Regions from separate parts of the Homo sapiens genome. Here region 1 is linked to region 2. The links come from fine-mapping of genetic effects on gene expression. A gene starts in region 2. The other region holds a variant in brackets. All regions are shown on one strand. Distances are from middle to middle. Region 1 has its middle 36 kb from the start of PGK1. Region 2 holds the start of PGK1 (phosphoglycerate kinase 1).

Region 1 (3,023 bases), 35 kb after region 2:
CTGGGCTCTGCCACTTATTGACTTTGTAGCCTTGGGTAAACATTTCACCTCTCAGAGCCTCAATATCTTCATCTGTAAAATGGGGATAATAATTGTACCCACTGCATAACATTGTTATGAGGATTAAATGAGTTAATACAGGTAAAATATTTAGAACAGCACCTAGCACAAAGTAAGAACTATGTAAAAGCTTTTCAAATAAATAAATATATTTATGATTGCTTTTCTGCCCCCTTAACTTTGTCCACTTATATTTTGAAATCCAAAGCTGAAGCTTTAAGAAACCTGGACAAAAGTATAGCCCAAAGAAAGCTGAATTCCCTACTCCGGTACCTATAGTCCCTGATAATATGACCCCATATCATTCTTGCTATTTGAACAGCTTTGCAAGGACCTTCTTTTGCCCATCTGAAACGTCAGAATCCTATTTCAGAACCTAAGGAGAAGGGGAGACATGCTAATCCCTTTCTTGTTTTCTTGGTCAGTGTCGGTGTTGCTGCAGCTGAGGAGAGAGGCCATTTCTCCTACTCTCCCCTGTCTCCAAAGAAAAAGGAGGAAGTGAAAACTGAAAAATAATAGACTGATTGGGGCCACTGGCCAGGCCTGTAGGTTAAAGATTAATCCCCACCCTAACCACTTGTGCTATCTATAGATCACAGAAAATGGTATGGAAAAATACTTGCCTTGCTCACAATCCTCACCTAGTCACCTACCCCATGCTTGCTCAATCTATCCCGACCCTTTCACATGGACCCCTTAGAGTTGTAAGCCCTTAAAAGGGCCAGGAACTCTTTCTTTGGGGAGCTCGGTTCTTGAGACGCAAGTCTGCCAATGCTCCCGGCCAAATAAAGCCTCTTCCTTCTTTAGCCCTGTGTCTGAGGGGTTTTGTCTGCGGCTCATCCTGCTACACAGTAAGAAGAGGCTCCCTCATCTTTTGATCTAAGATGTACTTTCTGGTTTGGCAGATGGTCAAGAAAACTAGATTCCAGTCTTAGCTACAGTGAGTCATCTGGAGCAAATCGTTTATTTGCCCTGCATCGATATGTCCATCAGAAGGATCTCACTTCAGCCTGGCTGGCTTTCAAAACCAACAGCATTAATGTGAGGGTCAGGGAAGTGACAACTCTGGTGATCATAGAAGAAGAAAAGGGCCATGCACAGTGGCTCACGCCTGTAATCCCAGCACTTTGGGAGGCCAAGGTGAGTGGATCATCTGAGGTCAGGAGTTGAAGACCAACCTGGCCAACATGGTGAAACCTCGTCTCTACTAAAAATACAAAAATTAGCTAGGTGTAGTGGCTCACACCTGTAATCCCGACCACTTGGGAGGCTGAGGCAGGAGAATCACTTGAAGCCAGGAGGCAGAGGATGCAGTGAGCTGAGATCACGCCATTTCACTCCAGCCTGGGCGACACAGCAAAACTCTGT[C/A]AAAAAAAAAACAAAAAACAAAAAACAAGAAGAAAAAGCCAGGCATGGTGGCTCATGCCTGTAATCCCAGCACTTTGGGAGGCTGAGGCAGGTGGATCACCTGAGGTCAGGAGTTCAAGACCACACTGGCCAACATGGTGAAACCCTGTCTCTACTATAAATACAAAAATCAGCCAGGCTTGGTAGCACTCACCTGTAGTCCCACCTACATGGGGGGCTGAGGCAGAAGAATAACTCAAACATGGGAGGTGAAGGCTGCAGTGAGCAGAGATCGTGCCACTGCACTCCAGCCTAGGCAACAGAGTTAGACTCTATCTCAAAAAAAAAAAAAAAAGAAGAAGAAGAAGAAAAGCTCCCTCAAATCATGCATATCCAAGTTCAAATCCTGGTTCTGCCTGACATTGTGTCTCCTTGGGGAAGTCAGATCACATAAAGCTCAGTCTTATCTGTAAAAGGCAATAAGAATCTCACAAGATTTTTGTAAGGATTAAATATGGTGAGATAAGAAATGTAAATATCTAGCACACAGTCCTGCAGTTGATGTTACCATATGTACCTGTATTCAATATACTTTCCGCCAAATGTATATGTACATTACTCAGTGTCTATAGCATACTGTTATTATGACAGGAAGCCAAGAGAAGGAGATATGAAATGACAGATTGGCTTAACTGCAAACACAAGTTTGTATTATCTCACCACTGCTCCAGAATTCAATATTTAAATGAATGAACTAAATTTTGCCCCTGAAAAACACTATTAAATCACTTTTAAAACAAGTATGATAAAGAGTTGAGACCCCCCCCACCAACACACACACACACACACACAAATTCACTGTGTAATGGAGATAGTTTTACTGTCTTGTGCATCTTAAACATTGGCAAATGTAGGTAGTCTCCCCTCATTGGTCCTTCCCTCATCCCTGCCTGTCCCCTTAACATTTTGAGTGATAACAGGCATTGTTCCTGTTCTAAAATGTAGAAATGAAAGCAAAAGAAGCCCAAGGTCATATACCACGTGTCTAATGGAGTTGGGCATAATAGGGAGAAGGTGAAAGAACTAAAATAACTAGAGATGCCTAGTTTGAAATAGAGAAGGTTCAGGGGCTAACATAACTGTATCTTGGCAACCATCATCCACCATTCACTATTTCTGCAGAACCTCTTCTTCCAGGCCTCTGTACAAAGAAGGCCAACTGCTTCTTCTAGATTTTTATTTATTTTTTATTTTTAATTAATTAATTAATTATTGAGATAGAGCCTCACTCTGTTGCCCAGGCTGGAGTGCAGCAATGCGATCTCAGCTCACTGCAACCTCCACCTCCCAGGTTCAAGCAATCCTCCTGCCTCAGCCTCCCGAGTAGCTGGGATCACAGATGTGTGCAACCATGCCCAGCTACTTTTTGTATTTTTAGTAGAGACGGGGTTTCACCATGTTGGCCAGGCTGGTCTCCAACTCCTGACCTCAACCAATCCGCCCGCCTTGGCCTCCCAAAGTACTGGGATTACAGGCATGAGCCACCGTGCCTGGCCTTCTAGAGTTTTTGTTTTGTTTTGTTTTGTTTTGCTTTGTTTTGTTTTTTGAGACAGAGT
Region 2 (2,500 bases):
TAAGAGACCCAAAGTGCACGAGGAAACTTCCCCCAATTTTAAAATTCTACTTTTCTAGCCACACGTGGGGATGAGATTGGAGGCCAGCAAGTATGAGCAGCCACACCCTGCTCTACCATTACCTAGTATGTCACAATCCTGATGCAAATCCTGTGCCCAAGAGTCCAACGATACCGCGCTGCAGGGCAGCAGACGCCTGTTACGTAAGCTCTGCAGGGCCTCCTCCAGTTCGCCCCGCCCTACCCTCCCACCCCAATTCTTTAGTGGCGGGGGGCGGGGGGGTCTACTCCTGAAGTTAAATCAACATCCTCTTGGAAAAATATCCTTTTGTGCAGGAACCTGTGAGATGTGGGCCGTTTCTCATTTGGCTGCGACGGTCTAGGAGCGTGGGGGAAGGGAAAGTAAAATGACCTTTCAAGGTCCCTTCCTTGAAGCCTAGAGATTTGCAGGATAAGCATTAAGTCCCATCTCGCCGACTGGGAGCTGGAGGCAACGGAACTGCATTTCACCAATAGGAAAAAGGACAAAATGGGTCCCAGCGGCAATCTCAGCCCTTCCTCAGTGGGATCCATCCCCGAAGGGTGACTTCGGGTGCTTTCTGGGCTGGGGAAAATGCGGCTAGAAACCACCAAACCCGTGAGCAGCCTCGCCCTCCAAGCCTAGGACCCCTGGGGCCCAGCCAAAAGCTAAAAGAACTTAGAGCAGACGAGAGAACAAGTCGGCTCCGGCCAAAGAGGTTTGCGACAGAGCACAGAGAGCACGCGGGCAAACGTGCAGAATTACCTCATAACGACCCGCTTCCCTTTAACGTCCAGCTTGTCCAGCGTCAGCTTGTTAGAAAGCGACATTTTGGAAATACAGCTGGGGAGAGAGGTCGGTGATTCGGTCAACGAGGGAGCCGACTGCCGACGTGCGCTCCGGAGGCTTGCAGAATGCGGAACACCGCGCGGGCAGGAACAGGGCCCACACTACCGCCCCACACCCCGCCTCCCGCACCGCCCCTTCCCGGCCGCTGCTCTCGGCGCGCCCTGCTGAGCAGCCGCTATTGGCCACAGCCCATCGCGGTCGGCGCGCTGCCATTGCTCCCTGGCGCTGTCCGTCTGCGAGGGTACTAGTGAGACGTGCGGCTTCCGTTTGTCACGTCCGGCACGCCGCGAACCGCAAGGAACCTTCCCGACTTAGGGGCGGAGCAGGAAGCGTCGCCGGGGGGCCCACAAGGGTAGCGGCGAAGATCCGGGTGACGCTGCGAACGGACGTGAAGAATGTGCGAGACCCAGGGTCGGCGCCGCTGCGTTTCCCGGAACCACGCCCAGAGCAGCCGCGTCCCTGCGCAAACCCAGGGCTGCCTTGGAAAAGGCGCAACCCCAACCCCGTGGAATTCGAGGCTGCCCTACCAGGATCAATGCAAATGCCACCTCCTTTTGGAAAATCCTGGTTTCCTAGCTCCCTTCATGGAATTCTGCTTCTTAAGGCTTACTTAGTAATAGAGACCTCTCAGAAGTTGGAAGAGGCCCAGGTCCACTCTGGCCCCCACCTTTTTTAAAATAAAAAATGCAATGTAATTTTTCTGGTTATGGCATGATTGATGCTAATGGCAAACACGTGGCATTTTTCATATATTAACCAACGCTCACAAAACGCAGTAGTGACTACTGTTATCCTCATTAGGCAAATGAAATAACTGATGCACAGAGAAGTTTAGTGGGCCAGGCGCGGTGGCTCACGCCTTTAATCCCGGCACTTTGGGAGGCCAAGGCCGGCAGATTGCTTGAGCCCAGTGGTTCGAGACCAGCCTGAGCAACATAGCAAAACCCCATCTCTACTAAAAATACAAAAAATTAGCTAGACGTGGTGGCGGGCACCTGTAGTCCTGTTACCCGTGGAGGGTGTCCAAGTTCTTAGCGTCTTGAACTAAGAACTGGACGAAATGCACAAAGCAAAGAAAGAATGAAGCAATAAAAGCAGAGATGTATTGAAAACGAAAGTGTAACCGCCCAATGGGTTCACCTTGTCCGCTGCCTAGACAGAGCTGATTTATGAAGACGGGAATTGCAATGGCGAAAGAATAATTCACGCTGAGCGCTGTGCGGGAGACCAGAGTTTCATTATCACTCAAATCAGTCTCCCTGAGCATTCTGGAATCAGAGTTTTTAAGGATAATTTGGCAGGTATGGGTTCGGAAAGTGGGGAGTGCTAGTTGGTCGGGATGAAGATTAAATCACGGGGTCGAAGTGAGTTCTTGCGAGTTCTTCCTGGGTGGGATCGTGGAGCTAGTTGAGCCAGATTATCAGTCTGGGTGGTGTCCTCTGCTGCATGAGAATGCAGGGTCTGCAAAATATCTCAAGCACTGATCTTAGGATTTGCAATGGTGATGTTATTCCCAGAAGCAATTTGGGGAGGTTCAGATTCTTGCAGCCAGAGGCTGCATGGCCCCTAAACTGTAATTTATAATCTTGTAGCTAATTTGTTACACCTACAAAGAAAGGCAGACTGGTCCCAG

Evidence for each region. PIP is the estimated chance that this variant, and not a neighbour inherited with it, causes the effect.
Region 1: its variant is fine-mapped to the expression of PGK1 in blood mononuclear cells (TOPMed, PIP 0.97).

The regions. Positions count from the first base shown.
Region 1 is chrX:78,066,936-78,069,958 of GRCh38, reverse strand. No RefSeq gene overlaps it. Among named protein-coding and RNA genes, the nearest start is that of PGK1, 36 kb to the left of the region's middle. The variant C/A (reference allele first, on the strand shown) is at 1,429.
Region 2 is chrX:78,102,689-78,105,188 of GRCh38, reverse strand. PGK1 (phosphoglycerate kinase 1) reads right to left here and starts at 941. Exons shown (of 11, transcript NM_000291.4): 1 at 784-941. The coding sequence starts at 848. RefSeq lists a silencer at 995-1,054.